2 separate regions of the Homo sapiens genome follow, and region 1 is linked to region 2. The links come from fine-mapping of genetic effects on plasma protein levels. A gene starts in region 2. The other region holds a variant in brackets. All regions are shown on one strand. Distances are from middle to middle.

Region 1 (9,426 bases), 100 kb after region 2:
AAAACGGGTGAAACTAGAAAACATGGCGCTAAGTGAAAGAAGCCAGCCACAAGATCACGTGTCGCATGACTGCATTTACGTGAAACATCCGGAGTACCCAAATCTATACAGACAGAAAGTAGATTATACATTGCCTAGGTGCAGAGAAATGGAAGGATTGGAGGTTGACGGCTAAAGGATGTGGATTTCTTTGGGGGGTGATAAAAATGTTCTAAAATTGATTGTGGTGATGTGCGACTCTATGAATACGCTAAAAACCGCTCGGTTGTACATTTTAAATGGGCGATTTATGCGGTATGTGAATTACATCTCAAGAAAGCTGCTGCAAAAAATATCATACGGGTTGAGCCTAGTGGTATTAAAAAAGTATAAATATGGCCAGGCGCGGTGGCTCACGCCCATAATCCCAGCACTTTGGGAGGCCGAGGCGGGCGGATCACGAGGTCAGGAGATCGAGACCATCCTGGCTAACACGATGAAACCCCGTCTCTACCAAAAATACAAAAAAAAATTAGCCAGGTGTGGTGGCGGGTGCCTGTAGTCCCAGCTAGGTGGGAGGCTGAGGCAGGAGAATGGCGTGAACCTGGGAGGCGGATCTTGCAGTGAGCCAAGATTGCGCCACTGCACTCCAGCCTGGGCGACACAGCGAGACTCCATCTCAAAAAATAAATAAATAAATAAAATAATTGTTTGGGTACACTGTTGCTGTTACGAAGCCTACGATTTGACTGTCTTGCCTTCATTGATGATCTTTTTCTCCCCATGGTTGCTTTTAAAATCTTGTGTTTGGTATCTTGTCATTTACTACTACCTTGAGTCTAGGCCTGGATTTTATTTAAATATATGTTTGGTATATATTGTGTTTCCTGAATTTACGAATTCATGTTTTACCAACAAATTTGGAACATTGTGTTATCTCTTCAAGTATTGCCTCCTTCATTCTCTAGATTCTCTCCCTCTAGTACTTCCAGTCTTTAAAATTCTTCCCTCCAAATCTCAACTTTCTAATGTTTTCTAGCTCCTTGTTTCTCCTACTGTTGTTTGTATAAAATTATAACGAAAAGTGTTTATAAGAAATTGTAAACAAATGTAAAACTAAATAAACATTGTTATGCAACATTTAAAAAATTGTTTGAACTGAAGGATAATAGTGACAAAGCCTATTAAAACCTCTGGGATACAGCAAAATTAAGAGGAAGGTTCATAGCATTAAATGCCTACATCAAAGAGCATGAATAGACAATCTAAAGTCATACCTCACAGAACTGGAGAAACAAGAACCAACCAAACCCAAACCCAGAAGAAAAAAGAAATAATAAAGATCAGAATTAAATAAAATTGAAACAAAAATACAAAAGATATATGAAACAAAAAACTGATTCTTTTAAGAGATAAACAAAATCAATAGACCATTAGTGAGATTAACTAAGAAAAAAAGGGAGAAGATCCAAATAAGCTCAATTAGAAATGAAATGGGAAATATTACAACCAATACCACAGAAATATGAAATATATTCAAGGCTACTATGAACACCCTTATGTGCACAGACTAGAAAATTTAGAGAGAGTGATAAATTCCTGGAAATATACAACCCTCCTAGATTAAAACACAAATAAATAGAAACTGCACTGGGTATAGTGGCTCACACCTGTAATCCCAGCACTTTAGGAGACTGAGGTGGGCAGATCACTTGAGGCCAGGAGTTTGAGACCAGCCTGGCCAACAGAGTTAAAACCCTGTCTCTACTGAAAATAAAAAAAATTAGCTGGGTGTGGTGGTGCACACCTGTAATCCCATCTACTCAGGAGGCTGAGGCAAGAGAATCACTTGAGCCTGGGAGGCAGAGGTTGCAGTGAGCTCAGATTGTGCCACTGCACTCCAGCCTGGGCGACAGAGCGAGATCCTACGTGGAAAAAAAAAAGAGAAAGAAACTGAACAGACAAGTAACAAGCAGTGAGACTGAAACAATAGTAAAAAAAATTGCCAACAATAAAAATGTCCAGGACCAAATGGATTAACAGCTGAATTCTATCAGGCATTCGAAGAATTGGTACCAATCTTACTGAAATGATTTCAAAAGATAAAGAAAGAGGAAATCCTCCTTAAATCATTCTATGAGGCCAGTAACACCCTAATACCAAAACCAGGAAAGAACATAACAAAAAAAGAAAACTATAGACCAATAGTTCAGACTCTGTAGGTCTATAGTTCAGCCCCTGATGAACATAGATGCAAAAATCTTCAACAAAATACTAGCTGAGTCCAACATTATATCAAAAAGATAATACACCATGATCACGTGGGTTTCATATCAGGGATGAAGGGATGGTTTAACATATGCAAGTCAATAAATGTAATTAATCACATATAAATAATTAAAAATTTAAAAATATGATTTCAATTGATGCAAAAAAACCCATTTCACAAAATCCAGCATCCATTTATGATTAAAACCATCAGAAAAAGCATAGAAGGGACATACCTCAAGGTAATAAAAGCCATCTATGAAAAATCCATAGTCAACATTATACTAAACAGAGAAAAATCTACAGCATTTCGCCTAAGAACTGGAACAAGAAAAGGATATCCACTTTCACCTCTTCTATTCAACATTGTACTGGAAATTTTAGCCAGAGCAATCAGACAAGAGAAACAAAGGGCATTCAAATAGGTAAAGAGGAAGTCAAACTGCTGCTGTTCACTGATGATATGATTGTATACCTAGAAAACCCTAAGGACTCATCCAAAAAGTTCTTAGATCTAATACATGAATTCAGCCAAGTTTCAGGATACAAAATCAATGTACACAAATCAGAGGTAGCACTGTTATACACCTCCAATGACCAAGCTGAGAATCAAATCAAGAACTCAACCTCTTTTACAACAACTGCAAAAAATAAAATACTTAGGAATGTATACCTAACCAAGGAGATGAAAGATCTCTAAAAGGAAAACTAAGGGACACTGCTGAAAGAGATTATACACAACACAAACAAGTGCAAACACCTCCCATGCTCATCGATGAGTAGAATCAATATTGTGAAAATGACCATACTGACTAAAGCAACCTACAAATTTAATGCAATTCTCATCAAAATACCATCATTACTCTTCACAGAACTAGAAAAAACAACCCTAAAATTCATATGGAACCAAAAAAAAGCCCTCAAAGCCAAAGTAAAACTAAGCAAAAAAAAAAAAAAAAAAAATCTAGAGGCATTACATTACCCAACTTCAAACTATACTACAAGGCTAGAGTTACCAAAACAGCATGGTACTGGTATAAAAATAGGCACATAGACAAATGGAACAGAATAGAGAACCAGAAATAAAACCAAATACTTACAGTCAACTGACCTTTGACAGAGCAAATACAAAGTGGGGAAAGGACATTCTATTCAACAAATGGTGCTAGGATAATTTGCAAACCACATGTAGAAGAAAAAAGCTGGATCCTCATCTCTCACTTTTTACAAAAATCAACTCAAGATGGATGAAAGACTTAAATCTAAGCCCTGAAACCATAAAACTTCTAGAATATAACATTAGAAAAGCTCTTCTAGACATTGGCTTAGGCAAAGACTTCATGAATAAGAACT[C/A]AAAAGCAAATGGAACAAAAACAAAGATAAGTAGCTAGGACCAAATTAAGCTAGAAAGCCTCTTCACAGAAAAAGAAATAATCAGCAGAGTAAACAGACAACCCACAGATTAGGAGAAAATATTTTGCATACTATTCATCTGACAAAGGACTAATATCCAGAATCTACATGGAACTCAAACAAATCAGCAAGAATAAACAAATCCCATCAAAAAGTGGGCAAAGGGTATGACTAGGCAATTCTGAAAAGAAGATACACAAATGGCCAAGAAACAAATGAAAACATGCTCAACATTACTAATTATCAGGGAAATGCATATCAAAACCACAATGAGATGCCACCTTACTCCTGCAAGAATAGCCACAATTAAGAAAATAAAAAAACAACAGATGTTGGCATGAATATGGTGTAAAGGGAACATTTTTACACTGCTGGTGGGAATGTAAACTAGTACAACCACTATGGAAAACAGTATGGAGATTCCTTAAAGATCTATAAATAGATTTCATCCACAATCCCACCACTGGGTATATACCCAGAGAAAAAGAAGTCATTATATGAAAAAGACATTTGCACACTATATAATAATTTATACTTAAAATTGTTTAAATTTAATATTAACAAAAATAAATGTAATATGCCACACAAGTAGGTATTCAATAAAACTAAATACAATTACGTTTAACTTTTGAAACTATGTTATACTATGAAAAAAATCCTATTAACTTTTGAATATTTAGCCAAGGAAACCAAGTATATCTCTTCTTTAAAAAGTCTGATTCCAATTTTAACAAACAGGTGTTTTTGACAACCAGTTTATTTCCTTACTGAAATTTTCAAGGCACAGAAAGAACAAAAGAAGAAACATCCATTACACTGCCCAAAACAACAGTACCTGAAGGATTTAGAGGCAAAAATGAAGCCTGAGAATAGCAGGACATAGACATATTTCGTAACATAGACTCATAGCAGAATAATCGTTATGTTGGTTCACTAGGGAAGAAAACACTAAACAGCTCTTGCAAATACACTCAATATACAATAAGATAGCTTGTGATTTTAACGAGTTAGCAATGCAGAACAATGAAGCAAAAGCAAACAAAAAAACTAAAAATAACTAAATAAAACAAACACTAAATAAAAACAAAAATAAATCCATTTTCTAGAAAAATTTTTAAAGACTTTGCTTGATTTACCAAAGAATTCAGTATTGACTTATTCTGTCTCCATTTTATTTTATAATGGAACCCATCTAATTTTATGCTAAATGTATGCCGTAAGGACACCTTGCTACTCTGGAAAGAATAAGAGGAGAGTGGACAGAAGGCCATACTCTATTGAAAAAGAGTATCTCCAGCCTGGTAACAGAGACTCCATCTCAAAAAAAAAAAAAAAAAGAGTGTGTTTTCATATATGATTTTGTGACTCTACATTTTTAAGTAAGGATGAAGAACTTGGTAATTAAATGATTCCTCAGTTGCTCATCACTGTCATCAGACACCTTGAGTATACTGTGGGGACAGCATCTGGAAGAGGAGGAGACCTGAGTAATAATTTGGATGGAGCCGATTTCCACAATCCTACTTTCCCATTATCTGCAGTTCAGAATTTAACTAAGTATCTGTATTGTTAATCTGGGTGAACGACCTCAGTAGACACCAGACAGCTGGATGCCTGCACTTCTTTAGATTTCATATTAATGGTTCATATACTCTCCCCATCCCTGTCACTTTTATACTTCCCTGAAACTGGATTACATATGAGATAGAAACAAGGAATCCAGGTATTATATTGACTCTTTCTCAGGAGCCACTGCATTGGTGTTCATGATGCATTACTGAATGTACCAGCTGCCTCCCTCTTCTTGTGAAGGCCCTTCTTTATTCCCTCAGATGTGCTCATCACGAGATAGCTTCAAGCATATCATCTGCTTGCCTTGCCAGTTATAGCAACCATAAAAATAAATTTGCAGCATCATATATAGCTTGAATATTCTCAAAAGATGTTCCTAATAGCTCTTAAAATAAAATGTTTTCCACAGAGTAGCTATACATAACGTGCTCTCAGCTTATGTAAACTTATGTTTTTATTGGTCTTAAAGCAAAACTTCTCCTAAAATTGAGAAAAGAACTAAAGTCTTTTGTCATTAGATGAAGAAAGATACAGCATCTAATACTGTGAACTTCTCTATTTTAAGATGTTTTCAGACATCAAGACTGGATGATAAAATTATTTAACAATTTGGAATATAAATTAAGAAATAAAAAACCTTTATACTATACTATATTACTAACATTTTTGTTTGATCGTGGCTGCCTTATAACTTTTTGGTAGTTCATTGAAAATAATGGCTACTCGTGAGAAAACTGAAATAGCCTAGGACATAGAAGACAGAGACAGAAAAAAAAGGTAAATTAACTATTTGTGCCACGTGGTAAAGAAAGTTTACAGTATGTAGTCATTAAATGTACTTGCTTATAATTACATAATATAACCAATGATGAACAATTTTAAATGCAATTTAGAATTCAGAATATTTTATATTTAATATATGTTTCTCAAAGAAATATAAGATCTACTGAATGGGGAGATACTTTATATGTGTAATTACTTACAAATGGGAGAAAACTTTTACAATAGTTTGTACTCTTTAGCTATAAGCTGTAATTTAAGAGATTCAGTAAGAGTAGCTTTTTGTAACTTAAATATTCTATATTTTCCTTGCACACATTTTTGCCTTTAATCATGTATTTTATTCAACCTGCTAAGATGGTAGAGAATATACATACGTAAGATTACATTAATAATTACTAAAATAATGGTCTATGACAAATTTAAAGTGCAGTAGGAAAAAAGTTTAATAAAAACAACAGAGATATACAGAATGTGGCTTTCCACAGTTTGTCTCCCATATTATTCCTATCATTTACTCTGTTTCTAAGGTTAAGTAACATTAAGATGAGGCGTAAGTGTTGTAATATGCCTTTAATTATTAAATATAAATGTATCACATGGCAATTATATTCAACATACTCTTATTCCAAGCTATGTACAATTTTAATAATTTTATACAGGTAGCTTTGAAAATGAGCGAATTTGAATATAACCAATAATCACAGAAATATTTATAGTGCAAATATTCTCAGCAAGATTTGAATTGTTGGTAAATTCAAAACAAATAGAAATACAAAGAAAAATTTTGTATAATACTTTTCATCTAGTTTATGTTACAGTGTTTTAAATTCAGCTTAGTCACATATCATGATACAATGCTTTTGGTTTTGTTTTTTTGAAACAGAGTCTCACTCGCTCCGTTGCCCAGGCTGGAGTGCAGTGGCGTGATCTCGGCTCAGCTCACTGCATCCCCTGCCTCTCGTGTTCACATGATTCTTGTATCTCAGTCTCCTGAGTAGCTGGGATTATAGTAGTGTGCCACCATGGCTAGCTATTTTTATTTTTTTTGTAGTTTTAGTAAAGACAGGGTTTTGCCGTGTTGGCCAGGCTGGTCTGGAACTTGGCCTCAAGTGATCCACCCACCTCAACTTCCCAAAGTGCCAAGATTATGGGCATGAGCCATGGCACCTGGCCCTGATATGTTTGGAAATAGTGGGTGAATGCTGCATTTGAGATACTAGAGACCTGTTTGGAGCATTAAGCGAATGCATCTTATTAAGAATGTATTCTTTACCATTCTATGCAATGGCTTACATATCTGTGTATTTTCTTGGCTTGTCTACATGATATACAAATATTTGGATACATACAGAAATATAGGTCACTCATGTAAAAGCTTTTCAATCTGGCACATAAATTCAGGTTATTTGAAAACGGAATGGTAAAGTGTTACTGAAGAACTTTTACTATGGTTCATGTTTGGTAATATTTGCTAATATTCTAAAAACAAAACAAAAACCAAAAAATACCTTGATTTCATAATGTAAACATCTGATGTCTAAATTAATCAATAAAATAATTTTTGTGTTTTAACTAATTATATTTTATTTTGGTGCCGCGTAATTTCATGATAGATTAAATACTGAGACTCATTAGAGGTAAACTAGTGAATTATCATCCCGTTAAGAAAAATTTTGCTTCCGTTCGTGGGGGAGCTGCGGCGGTGGCGGTGCAGGAGGCCGGGCCGGGGCGCGGAGGGACCGACGGATGCACGGGCGGGCGGTCGGGAGCCATGGAGCGCGGCCCTGGGGCCCGGGGGCGCGGGCCGGGGTGGCCTTCCCACGGCACGACATGGAGACCTGTGGTTGCGAGGCTCCCTGGGGCGGCTTGGACCGCGATGGGGCTGGGCCCTGGCCTCCTAATGGGGCTGCCGTCTGGGGCTCTCACCCCTGCCCGCGACTCGGAGCACCCCCACCCCTCCCCTGCCCGGCCAGGCCGGGCGGCGTTGTTGGCGGGGGCCCCGGTGGAGGCCCGGCCCGGGAGGCGCCTGCCATGAACGGGCTGTCGCTGAGTGAGCTCTGCTGCCTTTTCTGCTACCCGCCCTGCCCCGGCCGCATCGCTGCCAAGCTCGCCTTCCTGCCGCCGGAGGCCACCTACTCCCTGGTGCCTGAGCCCGGGCCTGGTGGGGCCGGGGCCTGGTGGGGCCGGGGCCGCCCCCTTGGGGACCCTGCGGGCCTCCTCGGGCGCTGGAAGCTGCACCTGACGGAGCTCGCCGACTTCCAGTACAGCCAGCGCGAGCTGGACACCATCGAGGTCTTCCCCACTAAGAGCGCCCACGGCAACCGCGTCTCCTGCATGTATGTTCGCTGCGTGCCTGGTGCCAGGTACACGGTCTTCTTCTCGCACGGCAACGCGGTGGACCTGGGCCAGATGAGCAGCTTCTATACTGGGCTGAACTCCCGCCTCCACTGCAACATCATCTACGACTACTCCGGCTACGGTGCCAGCGCGGGCAGGCCTTCCGAGTGGAACCTCTATGCCGACATCGACGCCGCCTGGCAGGCCCTGCGCACCAGGTGAGGGCGACCCTGGGGGCAGCTCAGCCTGGGCACACCCAAGAGGGGACCAAGCCGGGGGCCGGGGGGCGGGCTTCCCTGGGAGGAAGTTGGGCGGCCCTGCAGGAGGGGAGCCACAGTGGATGCACAGGGCCAGAGAGCCGGACAGGCGAGCTTGGGTGTGCAGGTGCCGCCTCCACATGGCTGAGGTGTGGCCAGGCGGTCCTCCCACACCCTGGCCTGTGGAGCCAGGCTCCCTGGGAACCCCTGGCCTGAGGACGGGAAGGGGCTGAGCTTATCACAGGGGCGTGGATGCCACCCGGCAGTCGGGAGTGGGTGGTGGTCTGGGGGTCTGTGCACGTGTGGCTGGGAGCCCATCTGCGGAGGCAGCACTTGGGGCCAAGTGAGGCGAGGCTGCTGCATCCAGGTCCCGAGGCCTGGCCCATGAGGCCCTGTGGCTGCGGAGCTTGGCCATCCTGGGGCAGGGCCTGCAGGGTAAGGTGCAGACCCCCAGCACACACCCGAGGTCTGGGCCAGCCTCGATTCCAGATCCAGCCCTCCTAGTCATCCAGGTCCCCAGCCCTGCGCTTGCCTGGGCCCTTCACCGGTGTTTGAGCACCGCCCGGGCCAGTGCTGCTTTGGACGAGGAGACCCGGGTGGGCCTCTGGTGGCCTTTCCTGCTCGCCATCCACTGGGGCTGTCTCGTCCTGGCCCTCCCCAGCCCACTGGTCTGACCTGCTCCCGCAGGGGACCAGGCACAACTCTGAGAAGTCAGAGGCCCTGGGGAGGTGGGGTCCTCGTTGCCTTGGTGATATTGCAGGCGGTCCCTGCTGTGGGCCTGGGAGCTGGTCCCCTGGCACCACCCTGGCTCCGGGGG
Region 2 (8,000 bases):
TTGGAACTTGTCTAGTGCTGAGACCCCCTCAGGGCGTAGTGAGGTGATGTGGTGGCAGCCCCAGAGGTGATATCACTTGCTGCAGGTATACTTTTTTCTCCTTTGTATCTCTTAGACAATAGCTCCCACTGCTGTCAGGAGCAACTAAATCTTCTGTGTTACTGCTTCTAACACAGGGTTAGAAACAAGAGATAAAGTCTGTGTGAGGGTGATGTCAGCAAGCTCTTACTCAAGACCTGAGGGGCACTCCCTTTATTTAAGTAAACAAGATAAGCTTTTAGCACAGAGGCATTATGGCAATCCTGTCTTTATTTGTTCCTCTGACTCGTTCAGAGGAGGATCTGACTTGGCCTGTCAAATCTGTTTTGACTGCCAAATCCTTTGTCTTTCTCTTGCTTACTTCCTGGTTATTAACTGCACTCTGGTTAGATGAGCTTTGATGATTCCATGTTTTGCCAGGACAGTGACCATAGGTGTTTATAATGCTGACTCAGACAGGTAATACATGGTCCCAACTTCTAATCACCCCAGAAAGAACTGCCGGCCAGGCGCTGTGGCTTACGCCTATAATCCCAACACTGGGAGACCAAGGCAGGAAGATCACTTGAGCCCAGGAGCTCAAGACCAGTGTGGGCAACATAGCAAGACCTCATCTCTGTGAAAAATTAAATAAATAGGCTGGGTGCGGTGGCTCAGGTCAGTAATCCCAGCACTTTGGGAGGCCGAGGTGGGCGGATCATCTGAGGTCGGGAGTTCGAGACCAGCCTGGCCAACATGGAGAAACCCTGTCTCTACAAAAAATACAAAAAAATTAGCCGGCGTGGTGGCGCATGCCTGTAATCCCAGATACTTAGGAGGCTGAGGCAGGAGATTCGTTTGAATTCAGGAGGCAGAGGTTGTGGTGAGCCAAGATCGCACCATTGCACTCCAGCCTGGGCAAAAAGAGCGAAACTCCGTCTCAAAAAAAAAAAAAAGAAAAGAAAAATAATTAGCCTGGTGTGATGGCACACGCCTGTGGTCCCATCTACTTGAGAGGCTGAAGTAGGAGGATCACTTGAGTCTGCAGTGAGCCGTGATCACGCCACTACTGCACTCCAACCTGGGGGATAGAGTGAGTCCTTATCTCAAAAAACAGAAAACAAAAAAAAAACAAAAAAAAACTGCCTTTTGTTAAGCTTATTTTGTGTCTGTGACCATTTCCTATTAGATAGATATTTGAGGCCCAGAATATCTGCTGCCAGTTGAGGCCAGGTAAGAGTTACTGGCTGCTCTTGTTAAGCAAATATTTGAACTCAGTAGGCCTGAAGATGGGGTAACTGTTCGGATACTCTGCTTGAAATGCTGTCAGTGTGGTTAATGTTGATAATGGCCTCTGTTGGATGCCTGACACGCTGTATAAGGCACTTCGTGTAACTTAGTTTCATCCTCCCAACATTTTATATATCAGGAGACTGAGCCTTTCGTCACTGTCACTAATAAGTGGCAGTGGCTAGATTCGAACCAAGTTGGTTAAGCCTCTAAGCCCCACATCAAGCGCTCAGCCTTGTTCGCTCTGGAGTACCAGGATGCTTCCAGACTCCCTGGCCGTGCAGAGCAGCTTCCTAGCTGTTTTCCCAGTGCCAGTCCCATTCCTTGGGTCTTCCCCTTATAATACTGTTGAAATAGTAAGTTCAAAGTTTGTTTTAGTCACAACTAAGAAAGACTTTTGAATTGCACATTTTGGAGCAGGAAAGTCACATTGTTTCTGACTCAAAATGCCTGTTGCCTTTTCCAGGTCCCCATCTCAGCACCTGCCTCAGGCTGCAGTGCCACTAGTTTACACACGGGAAAACAGTTTCTAGAAACGATTTCTTTTTATTTTTATTTTGAGACGGCGGGGTCTCACTCTGTCACCCAGGCTGGAGTGCAGTGGCACAATATTGGTTCACTGCCACCTGTTCCTCTCAGGCTCAAGAGACCCTCCCACCTCAGCCTTTTGAAGTAGCTGGGACCACAGGTGTGTGCCACCAAACCCAGTTAATTTTTTGTGTTTTTGGTAAAGATGGGGTTTTACCATGTTGCCCAGACAGGTCTCAAACTCCTGAGCTCAGGCAATTCTCCTGCCTTGGCCTCCCAAAGTGCTGGAATTACAGGTATGAGTTACCATGCTCAGCCTCTAGAAATGATTTCTAATGTATGTAGCTGCAAATAGAACTGGGCCCAGTTTCTGAATGGCACTTTGAGTAACTTAGCTTCATCCTCCCAGCATTTTACATATCAGGAGACTGTGTATCAATAGCAACACACTTTTAAAAGTCAGGAACAAAGAAAGTAAGCAGCTGGTAGAAGGCTCCTTGCCCAACTACACTTCAAGTGTCCTCCTCTTATCACTTCTTGGCCTTTTGGCTAAGATCAAGAAGAAGAAGACCAGGCATAGGGGCTCACACCTGTAATCTTAGCATCTTGGGAGGCCAAGGCAGGAGGATCGCTTGAGCCCAGGAGTTCAAGACCAGCTGGAGCAACATAGCAAGACCTCATCTCTATTTTAAAAAAGAAAGCCAAAAGAAGAAGGAACAAAGGGGGAAAATGTTTTCTTCTCAGATAAAAATAAGGTTAAAGAACAAAACAAAAACCAACTTGAATAAATAAGCATTCAGGAAAACGTATCTGAGGCCAGATAGAGTGGCAGAGTAAAGACATGCATGTTTTATCCCGGTATTCAGAAGTTATATTTGGAAACTTCTTATACCCTGTTCCCACATTATCTGATAAAAAGCCAAAAATAGTTTTCGTCATTCCCTTACCAGAGGAAGGAGAAAATATCTCTGATATCTTTTATGGATTGAAATTAAAGATCTGAAGGTAAATCTTCCTGATGTTTTGCTATTTAGTATAACAAACATTGTAGAAGACGTTTAAAAACTATCACTAGGTTGTGATTAAATCCAGATTACTGTTTGAAGAGAAACAATATATTTTAAAGATAAATCATTCAAAAGTTTGTTTTGCTTTTTTTTTTTCCTGGGAACTTCATATTGTGCTTTCTTGCTAATTGCCAGAGCTGGGTTGGCCTTTTCAGTCACGCATCAGAGCATAACACTTGATAAACCGTCATCCCTCCTGGTGTATGGTCTCCAGGCCCAACAGAGCAGGCAGAATGGGAGAGAAGTAACTGCCTAAAGTTTGGAAAACTTTTTATTTTGAAGTAAGTTCAAACTTCCAAAAATGTTGAAAGAATAGTGTAGTAGAACAACTCCTGTATACCCGTACCGAGATTTACCAGGTTTAAAATTTTGGAACCTTTGCCCTGTCATTATCTGTGTGTGTGTGTACGTACGTGTGTGTTCTCACAGGCATGCACATACACATTTTTTCTTCTAGACCATTTGAGAGTAGGTCTCCTATATCTTGTTCCTCTAACATTTTTTCTTTTTTCTTCTTTTTTTTTTTTTTTTTGACGGAGTCTAACTCTGTTGTCCAGGCTGGAGTGCAGTGGCACGATCTCCGCTCACTGCAACCTCTGCCTCCCGGGTTTAAGCGATTCTCCTGCCTCAGCCTCCTGAGTAGCTGGGATTACAGGCGCGTGCCACCACGCCCAGCTAATTTTTGTATTTTTAGTAGAGACTTGGCTTCACCATGTTGGTCAGGCTGGTCTTGAACTCCTGACCTCGTGATCCACCCGCCTCGGCCTCCCAAAGTGTTGGGATTACAGGCGTGAGCCACTGCACCCGGCCCCTCTAACCTTTAATACTAATACTTCAGGGAAAATACCCAAGAGCAAGGATATTCTCATACATAATCACAGGACAGTTATCCAATTCGATTAATTTAATATAAGTACAATATTTTCATCTATTCCACAGCTCCTATTCTAAGTTTGTCAACTCTCCCAACAATGGAACTGACACAATTTTATAATAGGCACACTGAAAAATGAAACCATTTCCCACTTCTAAAACAGTGTAGAAAGCTTCTGAATTCTTAGTTTGCTAGAAAAATGAACCAGTTGCCTATCCGTAAACACCAAAAATAATTTATAATCAGCAGAAACATTAGAAACCCAACTTACCTCTGTGTTTCTGAGAAGTGGCGCTTCAGAGATGAAAGCAGCCAAGGTCATCAGTGGGATTTTGATGTGAACTTTGGTGCTGGGCTGTTGCTGCATATTTTCCAAAGTAAATAAGTCCCAATCCAAACACCAGGCAACCAGCTTGGTCAGCACAAACCCCCTCAGCTGTGCCTTTGATAACTGTAGAGTGGCTTGCAGCTCCTCATCTCCAGTTCTTAGAGCTGACACTTTGAGTATATGACGGTTACTGTGTTAGCATGCACACATAGCCTTGGTGCAGGAGCAGCCCCTCTTGAGGTCACCACATAAACAAGGCGCTCTTCAGGCCTCTGGGGACCAGGCTGCATTGAGGGTAGCTGAAAGTAGAGACCATGCATCTGCCTCCAACTGTGTCCTCTCTTCTGGGATGATCACAGCATCTGCCCTCCACCTGCTCTCCAGGACTGATGTGGCTGGCTCAGCTACTAGGCGGGTGTCCCTGTCCTTCCAAGAGCTCGTTCCTCAGTGAAAGGTGGAGGAGAGAGGACAAAATTAGTGGCTTACAGAATAAGGGGATTGTGGCATGGACCTTTCTTCAGTCAAGGGTTGCTGTGTTTGTTGCCAGTAGGTGCAGCCCAGCACTCCTGTCTGTTGTGGGACAGATAGGACTATTACTGAGCAGTGCCTCCCAAATTCAGGGCCACTTAGGCATTCGTGGGGATCTCTGAGGCTGTGATACATTTTGTGTTTATGGGTGTTTGTTTGTTTGTTTGTTTGTTTTGAGACAGAGTTTCGCGCTGCTGCCCATGCTGGAGTGCAGTGGTGCGATCTCAGCTCACTGCAACCTCTGTCTCCCAAGTTCAAGCGTTCTCCTGCCTCAGCCTCCTGAGTGGCTGAGATTACAGGCGCACACCACCATGTCCAACTAATTTTTTGTATTTTTAGTAGAGACGGGGTTTCACTATGTTGGCCAGGCTGGTGTTGAACTCCTGGAGTGAAGTGATCCTCCCGTCTCGGCCTCCCAAAGTGCTGGGATTACATGCGTGAGCCACCACGCCTGGCCCTATGTGTTTTTTGAGACAGGGTCTCACTCTGTTACCCAGGCTGGAGTGCAGTGGCGTGATCTTGGCTCACTGCAGCCTCAACCTCCCGAGCTGAAGCAATCCTCCTCACCTCAGCCCTGCAAGTAGCTGGGAATACAGGTGCACACCACCATGTCTAGCTAACTTTTGACTTTTTTGTAGAGACAGGGTCTCACTATGTTGCCTAGGCTGGTCTTGAACTCTTGGGCTCAAGTGATCCTCCTGCTTCAGCCTTGCAAAGTGCTGGGATTACAGGCATGAGTCACTGTGCCCGGCCTTATGATAATTTGTTTTTTAATTTGTGTTTTAAATTTTATGATCTAAAAAGTTTTAAGAATATTCTGGATTGTCTGGAAGATCAGCTTATCACAGAGACTGCTCCTCAAGAGCATGTTTGGGAGTGTCGGCACCCAGAGTCTATCTGAAGAGAGAATGTGACTCCTAGGAGAATCTGCGGGTGTGCAAGGGGCCCATGGGGGTGTCTGTGCATTGCTCCGTTTGAGAAATTCCAGAGTGTAAAGGTCCATTGTGTTCAGGACACAGACCGGTGGTTGTGTCTGAGTCTGATTTTGCACTCTAGCTTTTGTCAGAGCTGTCTTCTTAGAGCCTTCATCTGTCACATACAATACTGAGTCTTCAGCGTGGCACCACAGGCAGAGGCTGCTGTCTGTGCCCACACTCCTCGTGGGCCCACCTCCCTCATTCTCTGTCTTGTTCTCACACATGCAAAGCCCGGCCCCAGCACAGCCCTGGCACTTGCTATTCTTTCTGCCCAGGACACCATCCCTGCAGACCAGCAGGTGGCCGCTGCTCTCACTGTTCGCTCTTGGTTTCACCGAGGCGTCACCAGCCACCCTGGCTGAAATTGCCCCTTGGCCTCCAGCTCTCAGTATTCTGCTCTCTGAAATGAGGGTGACAGTTACACCTACTGCATGAGGTTGTTGTGAAAATTAAATGAGATACATTAATTTATCTCATTAATTAAATGAGAAAATTAAATGAGGTTAATGAATGTGTGGAAAGCACATAGAGTGGTGCCTGGCATTCAGAAAATGTTAGTCCTCATCATTTCATGGTATTACATATTTATTCACAGAAATGGTCTGGGAGGGGACACAGCATTCATTTTTCATTCTATGTACTTCTTTGTTTGACCTTTTTCTATGTGTATGTATTACTTTTGTTATTTTTAAAGCCAGTACCGGCCAGGTGTGGTGGCTCACACCTGTAATCCCAGCACTTTGAGAGGCCAAGGCGGGTGGATCACTTGAGGTCAGGAGTTCAAGACCAGCCTGACCAACATGGTAAAACCCCGTCCCTACTAAAAATACAAAAATTAGCTGGGTGTGGTGGCACACATCTGTAGTCCCAGCTACTCGGGAGGCTGAGGCAGGACAATCGCTTGAACCTGGGAGGTGAAGGTTGCAGTGAGCCGAGTTCATGCCACTGTACTCCAGCCTGGGTGACAGAGTGAGACTCTGTCTAAATAAATAAATAAATAAATAAATAAATAAATAAAGCCAACATATTTCCTGTCTATTTGGATTTCTGATCATGTAACCCACTATTGGAAAAATTTGATTTCAGTCCCTCTTGACATTGACATTTTTCAGTCATTTTCCCATTTAGTGGTAACAGCTTGTGTATGGCTTTTTTTTTTTTGAGACAGAGTCTCGCTCTGTCGCCCAGGCTGGAGTGCAGTGGCGCAATCTCAGCTCACTGCAAGCTCCGCCTCCTGGGTTCACGCCATTCTCCTGCCTCAGCCTCCCTAGTAGCTGGGACTACAGGTGCCCACCACCACGTCTGGCTAATGTTTTGTATTTTTAGTAGAGACGGGTTTCACCATGCTGGCCAGGCTGGTCTTGAACTCCTAACCTCATGATCCGCCCGCATCGGCCTCCCAAAGTGCTGGGATTACAGGCGTGAGCCACCACAGCTTGTGTATGGCTTTAACCCCACTGTAGAGCAGTACCTCCTGTCACACATACTCCATTGTTCTTTTGCAGTTTCAAGGTTTGTCTTATGGCTAGATATTTTTTCCAACTTGGAAAAAAATTTTTTTAGTTAGAAAAAAGCGGGGTCTCACTATGTTGGCCAAGTTGGTCTTGAACGTCTGGCTTCAAGCAGTCTTCCCACCTTGGCCTCCCAAAGAGCTGGGAAGACAGGCGTGAACTACCTCATCCAGACTTTTCCATCTTTTAACATGAAATTCTAAAAATATACAGAGGGGTCAGGCACGGTGGCTCATGCCTATCATCCCAGCACTTTGGGAGGCTGAGGCAGGAGGATCACTAAAGTTTGGAAAACTTTTTCTTTTGAAATAACTTCAAACTTTCAAAAAAGTTGAAAGAATAGTGTAGTAGAACAACTCCTGTATACCCGTACCCAGATTTACCAGGTTTAAAATTTTGGAACCTTTGCCCTGTCACTGTGTGTGTCTCTGTGTCCAGCTTGTGTGTGTGTGTGTGTGTGTGTGTGTGTGTGTGTGTGTGTGTGTGTGTGTGTCCGTGTCCAGCTTGGGCAACATAGCAAAACCGATCTCTCTCTCTCTCTTTTTTTTTTTTTTTTTTTGAGACGGAGTTTTTGCTCTGTTGCCCAGGCTGGAGTGCAGTGGCTCAATCTTAGCTTGCTGCAACCTCTGCCTCCTGGGTTCAAGCGATTCTCCTGCCTCAGCCTCCCAAGTAGCTGGGATTACAGGCGCCTGCCATCATGCCTGGCTAATTTTTGTGTTTTTAGTAGAGACAGGGTTTTACCATGTTGCCCAGGCTGGTCTTGAACTCCTGACCTCAGATGATCTGCCCGCCTCAGCCTCCCAAAGTGCTAGGATTACAGGCATGAGCCACTGCTCCCGGCTAGCAAAACCCATCTCTACCAAAAAAAAAAAAACTGGG

Alleles and levels. Positions count from the first base shown, and alleles are read on the strand shown. Strength reflects both the effect of a copy and how common the allele is.
In carriers of allele A in region 1, the plasma level of the protein whose gene starts at base 4,081 in region 2 tends to be lower than with C alone (moderate association).

What was found. PIP is the posterior inclusion probability: the model's chance that the variant is causal. The UK Biobank Pharma Proteomics Project read protein levels with antibody pairs (Olink). The fine-mapping took linkage between variants from a reference panel, not from the people measured, so its PIPs are less certain.
Region 1: its variant is fine-mapped to the plasma level of the SERPIND1 protein (UK Biobank, PIP above 0.99).

What each region holds. Positions count from the first base shown.
Region 1 is chr22:20,669,605-20,679,030 of GRCh38, reverse strand. It overlaps the pseudogene ABHD17AP4. Among named protein-coding and RNA genes, the nearest start is that of SERPIND1, 100 kb to the left of the region's middle. The variant C/A (reference allele first, on the strand shown) is at 3,601.
Region 2 is chr22:20,770,194-20,778,193 of GRCh38, reverse strand. It overlaps SERPIND1 (serpin family D member 1), which reads right to left and starts at 4,081. Exons shown (of 5, transcript NM_000185.4): 1 at 4,049-4,081. The region is part of intron 19 of PI4KA (phosphatidylinositol 4-kinase alpha); the gene reads left to right. RefSeq lists an enhancer at 99-393.